Linked DNA regions of Homo sapiens. The protein of the gene in region 1 interacts with the protein of each later gene in a biochemical or structural test. Each region holds a gene or a part of one and is shown on either strand. Other genes may lie near its edges. The genes, in order: DGCR6L and PAK4.

Evidence for each region.
Region 2: the proteins of DGCR6L (region 1) and PAK4 form a complex in vitro, tested with the Homo sapiens proteins (one study listed by BioGRID).

What each region holds. Positions count from the first base shown.
Region 1 is NC_000022.11:20,313,557-20,317,185, forward strand, and holds the end of DGCR6L (protein DGCR6L), read right to left. Parts: intron 2,664-3,629; coding exon 2,563-2,663; intron 1,921-2,562; coding exon 1,780-1,920; intron 1,269-1,779; coding exon 1,119-1,268; 3' UTR 682-1,118; downstream 1-681. UniProt on the Homo sapiens protein: May play a role in neural crest cell migration into the third and fourth pharyngeal pouches.
Region 2 is NC_000019.10:39,163,650-39,167,455, reverse strand, and holds part of PAK4 (serine/threonine-protein kinase PAK 4), read right to left. Parts: intron 150-3,806; exon of another isoform or gene 70-149; intron 1-69. UniProt on the Homo sapiens protein: Serine/threonine-protein kinase that plays a role in a variety of different signaling pathways including cytoskeleton regulation, cell adhesion turnover, cell migration, growth, proliferation or cell survival.

The DNA.
Region 1 (3,629 bases):
CCTGGTCAATAAACCACTGTTCCTGCAGCTGAGAGCCCTTTGCCCTCACACAGGGTCAGCTCTGGGCAACAAAGAGGGAGTGGCTCAGACAGGGTCAGAGAAGTCTCATCCCAAACTCTGGCTTCCAGCATCATCTGTTCCTGGAGGCCAGGCCCTGCGCAGACCTGGCCACCCAGGGTGCTGGACACCCCCAACCCTGACTCCACAAGGACCCAGCAGGGCCCATGGGCCCAGGCCAGCACGGAGGGGACTCATGCAGATGCAGAAGCCAAGCTCCCCAGGTGGCCCTGGCATGCCTCCCCGCAGGGCTCCTCCTCAGGCCATTCCTGCCACCCTGAGTCCTCTATCCCAGTGACCTGCATCAGGCTCCTCCTAGTGGTTCCCACAGGACACTGACCAGGCTGCGGCAGGCGCATACTTGCACTCCGGGCCTTCTCCCATGCTCTCCAGCCCCCAGCCCCACAAAGCAGGCTGGATGTGGTCCTCATGCCCTGGGGCTTGGATGGGGGCCCCTGTACAGATGGCAGTGACAGCATCCTGGGACCAGGGCTGGGGCAGGAAAGGCTGGAGGGTCCCAGTCTCCAGGCAGGGGGAGGGGTGGTGGGCTGGGCACACAGCCCAGGAAGGGGCCCCCAGGTAGAGGCCTCTGCTGCAACAGAGGTGGGGGCCCTACCAGGGCCCCGGTTATGGCAGAACCTGCAGCTATCACACAAGCCACATTTGGGCCACACTGAGGCATCTTTATTTCTCTGGGTCACACAGAGCTTGGGCCTGGGAGCCTCTTCTGCATGGGGGCTGCAGCTGCCAAGGGAGCGGCTGAGACCAGAACAAGCGCTCGGGTGGGCCCCAGTGCAGGTTGGGATGTGCCCGGTGGAGTAAGGTGTGAGAACCCCCAGCCTCACTCTCTGCCTGGTCCTGAAGCAGACAGCAGCAGGCTGGCCCAGCCTCCCCTTTATGAGACTATCCTAGGGTTTGACAGCAAGTCCCAGATGAAGGGTGACAGGCAGCTGGGGTCCACCTGGTCTCTCCTCAGCAGGGGGAACCCCCTGCGGGCAGCTGGGAAGGCAGTGGCCAAAGGTCAAGAAGATGAACTCTGCCCAGACTTCTGCTGCCTGTGGCTATGGTGGGACAGGGCTGCCTTTCTGGTCACACTGGGCAGCAGGCGACTGCCAGGGACCTCCCAGTCCCAGGGCTGCATTCCCTGCCCGGCAGCCCCTCTGCTGCAGCTTTCGGATGAGTTCCAGCAGGTTCATCTGCAGCATCAGCTCCTGGGATACAGAGGGGCCCCATGAAGGCCAGAGTGACCCCCAGGCCCCTTTCATCCCGGCCCAAGGGTGCCAGGCAGTGAGCCCACGGGGGCGACCATCCTGTGAAGCCTGGTCATGGCCTGCCAGGACAGGGTGGAATCTGAGCTTCTGCCCCCAACAGGGCCACTCGGAATCTGAGCCTCTGCCCCCAGCAGGGCCACTCGGAATCTGAGCCTCTGCCCCCAGCAGGGCCACTCGGAATGGCATGCGGGAGGGGAGCAGAAGAGGGCCCTGTGTGGCACAGCAGGCCTGGAGAGGGTGGGCAGTGCCCATGGCTGGCTGGCTCACCCTCCTGTAGGGAATGGGCCTGGCCTCCGTGCTGGGAATGGCACAGAAATCCTTTCCAGAGCCTCAATCCTTCCACTTCACCCCCATACCCTGAGCCTGGCTCCCCAGGGACCAGCAGTAAAACCCCAGATGGAATGGGGCCCCGGGGCACTCGGGCTAGGGCAGAGCAGGCCCAGGCACTGACCTGTGGGTTGGTGGTCACGTAGAAGCCAGCCACCCCCGCCTTCTCCAGTGTGCTCTGCTGGTCAGCCACCTTCCGGTCCAGCTCCAGGATGATCTTCTGGTCCATCGCCCGCTGCTCCTCACGGATCCGGTGTTCCACGGCCTGCCATGGGGCCAGGGCGCGGAGGGGGAGAGGTGAGGGCAGCTCTGCCATCAGGGGGCGGGGAGGTGAGGGCAGCTCAAACACATGCTCCTGCTGCCGTCCCCAGTGGCAGCAGCTCTGACACCACCGGTGCATCCTCACCACACCCAGGCCTCTCCTCGGCCATGTGAACCCCTGAAGGGGGCCCCAAGGGGCTTCCACGAATGCCCTGGCTTGGGACTGCCTTAGGACCACACACACATCTCCACAGGCACACCCTGCCCCACGGCTTGTTGGTTACATGCCAGTCTCTGGTTGTCCCTGTGCTCCCTGGGAGAAGGATGGGCCCCTTCCTGGCCCCAACACCCTACCATTGCCTTTGTACCCCCCTGAGGCCACCTGCTCTGTGGAGGCCCAAACCCACGAGGAGCTGCTATCCAGGGGAGCACTGGTGGGTTCTCAACCTCCACCCAGCCCCAGCACACTTGGTATCCGCAAAGAGGAGCCACCTGGTGGGACTCACTAGGCCTCCAGTGTCCCACTCAGGCCCAGGACAGCCACCCATGCCTGAGCCCCCACACCCCTTCAGCTCAGCCCAGTCAGCAGAGCCAGGTGGTGCCCACAGGAGAGCTGGGCCGGCCACCCTGCCTGCGCCCCCAGTACCTCTAGTTCTCGCTGCTGAGCCGCCTGAACCACAGGCAGGTTGTGGGGCCGGCAGGCCTGCTGGGCTTCCTGGTGCTTCTGCCGCAGCGCCTGCCTGAGCACTGGGAGGGATGAGAGCCCGTCAGCAGGCGGTGGGACTCGGCAGCAGCCCTCACCCATGGGCACCTGCCTTGCCAGCCCAGCAGAGCAGCCAGGCCAAAGGGGTGTCTGCAGTGGGGAGGATGCCAGCCTCCTCCATCCTCCCACCCCACTGTCACCCAGGGCCGGGCCCTTATCTGGTGGCAAGTCTCCAGGGGACTCCAGAAGGTGCGGGGCACTGAAAGAGTGGGGTGGGGAAGACTGGCCAGGTGGGGCCAAAGCTGCAGCCCCAGACCCAGGGCAGCTGGAGGAGGCAGGCGGGAGGGAGGCTGCAGTCTGAGGGCTTCAGGGCCCCCATGGCCACAGGCCATGAGACATCTACTCAAGTGTCAGAGACCACCTCAGGCAAAGGCATGGGAAAGGAGCAGGAGGAGCGGGGTCGCTGACCCTGAGCGTGGGGCCTCTGCCTACCAGGGGTGTGGTCGGGCCCTCCACCCTCAGTGCTGCCCTTCAGGGTAGACAGCCCCTCCCTCATTTGCAGCTCCCAGCCCCCGCACAGCGCCAGAGGGAGAAGGGTGGGCAGACCTGGGAGGCCCAAGTTTGGGATGAGCTTGGGGTGCCATAAGCCTGTGTGGCTCTGAGGGGCTCACCCTCAGCCATCAAGTAAAGCTCCACGGTCCTTGCTAAACTGTGCACAAACACAGATGTGTGCAAACTGTCTGGTCTGAAGGGAATGTACAGAGGAAGCGATCATGGGACATAAACCACCATGAAACAGAACATGCAGCACCCCACAGCTGGCGCCAGTGACCAGTAAGTGCCAAATGGCTACAGCTCCCCAGGAGGGAGGGGTCCCTGGCCAAAAGAAAAGGTGAAACCCAACACTCTGTTCCTGGGAAGAGCCCTGATGTTGCAGCTCTTCTCTGGTGGCCAGTCCCCAGGGAACTCCAGGGCCCCTGAGGCTCCCCTGCAGGTAGCCTGGCTCCCGC
Region 2 (3,806 bases), on another chromosome or scaffold:
CCACCCCTGGTGGCCCTGACCTACTCTCTCATGGCTTTCTAGGCCCAGCTCCCAGGGTCATCCACATACCCCAACAGTCCCCATTTGCCCACTCTGCCTGCTGTCATTCCAGATCTGCGTCCCATGTCCTCCGGCCTCTCCGTCCTCCCAGATGTCCCTCCACCCCCTTTGGCCCCATGCCCAGCCCAGGCCTCTTCATCGTGAACCTGTCGCCCCGCCCCATCCCGCTCCCTCCCCACTGCGGGGCACTAGGCAGTTCCCAGAGCCACGGGAAGAGGATCAGCCATGTGACCCCTCACTAAGCCCGGAGGGCGGACAGCGGGGCAGACCCTGAGGTGGGGGACACCTGGGGACGGGGCAAGAGCAGCCTGGAGGGCGGGCGGCTGGCCCAGCTGGCAGCATGGGGTCTGGGGGATGTCCTCCGACGCCTGGCCTCCTGCCCTCCCACCCATAAACCCCCAAGGGAAGGGGGCAAGGGGCACGCCTCCGGATATTTGCCTGGGGCCACCCCTTCCCTCTGGGCACTGCACAGAGGGCAGGACAAACAGAGGAACTGAACATGTTTATAATGACCAGGCAGGGACCCCACCCTGGGCCGTCCTGTGCAGCTCCAAGCCCTGCCGGCTTCCCCAGCAGGCGCTCCCTTCCCAACAGATGCTCCTGACCTCATGGGGGCCACAGAGGCCGTGCCAGGCCTGGGAAGAGGGAGAAGAGCTAGGCAGAAAGGCTGGGCTTGCCCAGGTGCAGGGAGGGAAGGGTGGGGGCTGGGCTCCCAGGCCAGCTCCAAGCTTGGCAGTCAGGCTGCCTAGGGCTCCAAACCCCAGCAGGGCTGCCACGACTGGCCCTATATGACCTCACTTTCTGTGTCTGTGAACTGGAGCTCTAACCCAACCTGGGGACCTCAATATGTGGCCCTGGGTGAGCAACTCAGCCACGCTGTGCCTCAGTTTCCTCCTCTGTTCAAAGACGGCGATAATAGTAGCTGCTTCGTGGAGTATTTATTTATTTATTTTAAACGGAGTCTTGCTCTGTCGCCCAGGCTGGAGTGCAGTGGTGCGATCTTGGCTCACTGCAACCTCCGCCTCCCGGCTTCAAGCAATTCTCCTGCCTCAGCCTCCCAAGTAGCTGGGATTACAGGCGCCTGCCACCACGCCCAGCTAATTTTTGTATTTTTAGTAGAGATGGGGTTTCACCATGTTGGCCAGGCTGGTCTGACCTCTAGTGATCTGCCTTGGCTTCCCAAAGTGTTAGGATTACAGGCGTGAGCCCTGCGCCTGGCCTTCCTGGAGTTTTTATAAGGAATTACGCAGAACAGAGGGCACGGAGGGCCTGGCCCAGAGACAGTGGTTGGGATCAGAACCAAGGCAAATCACACACACAGTAAGTGCTCAGTAAGTGCCGGTCACCATTCCAATAGCAGCCAGCACTTACTGAGTACCTACTGTATACCAGCCCTCTTCCAGGCACTTTACCCGGAGTCCCACATATGATCCTGGAGGGAGGGGCCATTAATAAGCCCCGGATTACAGACAGGGAAAACAAGGCACAGAGGGGGACCTCATTAACCCAGGTGGCCCAGCTAGGGTGGCAGAGTGGACACCAGACTCCAGGCCTGTCTGCAGAGATTCGCGGGTTCCGGCCCTGCTGTGCGTCTAATCCCGTTCCATCCTCACAAGCATCCTCATCCCAATTCATGAATGGGAAAACTGAGGCCCAGAGAAGGGAAGGCCCTTGTCCAGGGCATGGACAGGAGAAGCAGCCAGTGAGAGGCAGACATGAGAAGCAGCCAGGATTTGAACCTGGGCGGTTGTGTATGGAAGGCACTGAAGGCTGGGCTCTTACCTGCCTGTCCTGCTGCCCTGGAGGGCTGAGGTGACACTGTTGGTTTTGTCTATTATTATTTTATTTATTTATTTATTTATTTATTTATTTATTTATTTTGAGAGGGAGTCTTGCTCTGTCGCCCAGGCTGGAGTGCAGTGGTGCAATCTCAGCTCACTGCAACCTCCGCCTCCCGGGTTTGCGCCATTCTCCTGCCTCAGCCTCCCCAGTAGCTGGGACTATAGGTGCCCACCACCATGCCCGGCTAATTTTTTTTTTTTTTTTTTTGTATTTTTAGTAGAGATGGGGTTTCACTGTGTTAGGCAGGATGGTCTCGATCTCCTGACCTCATGATCCACCTGCCTCGGCCTTCCAAAATGCTGGGATTACAGGCGTGAGCCACCGCGCCCGGCCTTATTATTATTATTATTATTATTATCATCATCATCATCATCCTCTCAAGGCTGGTCCTGGCCTCCCCTCTCCCTCCGTTCCCATTCTTTCTGTCTACACCCAGACCTTGCCTTTCCTCTCCTGCCTAGTCTCTGCTGAGTGAGGGTCCCTCCCTCCTGTGTGACCTGTCCTGGACCCCACGGGTAGTGGGAGGAAGCACAAAGTGGGCCCCGGGGCCCCCACCTCCCCAATGGCTGTACACCAGCCTTTCCCATGGGCCTGTGCAGCAGGAAAGATGCTTAAAACCAACCCCTCCCACCAAATGTGGCCTGAGGCTCAGCTCGGTACTCCCACCACCATCGCCACCACCACAAGGGACCCATGGCCCAGAGCAGACGCTGACGCTGAGCTCGCAGGCGCCCTCAACCACGGTGGAGTGGCCATTCTGAGCCCCATTTTGCAGCTGTGGAAACAGAGACTCACAAAGGTAAAATCTCTCACTAAGCTCACCGAGCAGAGCTGGGCCTGGAAGCCAGAGTCCTGCCCATTCCAGAGTCCTGCCCACTCCAGAGTTCACAGCCTTAAACCCTTTGCTGGCCCCCAAAATGCCTCCTCGTGGCCTGAGAGTCCCCACAGGATGCGCCCATCACCATGCTGCCCTCCTCTTCTCCCAAGCACCCCTGTACTCACTGTGCCCTGGCCACACAGGTCCCCCTGCTGTTCCTCAAATCCTAGACATGGTTCCACCTCAGGGCCTTTGCATGGGCGAGTGCCCCACCTGGAACTCTCCTCTCACTGATCTCCCACCTTCCCTGACTTCCCAGGCCCGCCTGTGCTCACAAGCCCTGCTCCTGTCCTGTCGCCCTCTACACCTGTCTCTGCTTTATCTTTCCTCAGGGCTCTTACCACATATATGGCGTGCTTGTGTGTGTGTGTATAATTCTTTTTTTTTTTTTTTTTTTTTGAGACAGAGTTTCACTCTTGTTGCCCAGGCTGGAGTGCAATGGCATGATCTTGGCTCACTGCAACCTCCGCCTAGTGGGTTCATGTGCTTCTCCTGCCTCAGCCTCCCAAGAAGCTGGGATTACAGGCGTCCGCCACCATACCCGGCTAATTTATGTATTCTTAGTAGAGATGGGGTTTTACCATGTTGGCCAGGCTGGTCTTGAACTCCTCACCTCAGGTGATCCACCTGCCTCAGCCTCCCAAAGTGTTGGGATTACAGGCGTGAGCCACCGGGCCCAGCCATATGTGTAATTCTTTAGCATCTGCCTCTCCCTTAGAATGTGTCAGCTTCACAGGGCAGGGACTGTCCTCTGTCTTACCCCCTCGTAGCCCAGGGCAGCACACAGTAGGGACTCCGTGGAATGATCGTCCCTGTCCGCTGCATTATTCCCCTGCTCAGAGGCCTTGGACAAGGCCCAGCAGCACCCGGGAAATCTTTCAGATAAGCAGCTGGGACCTGGGGGCAGTAGTCCCAGAGCAGCAGGAAGGTGCAGCCTTCTGCCCCAGCCGGGGCACAGATGCCTCTGAAGTCCAGTATTTGATCCCAGAAATGCAAGCGCATTTTGTATCCTACTCTAAAATGTTTA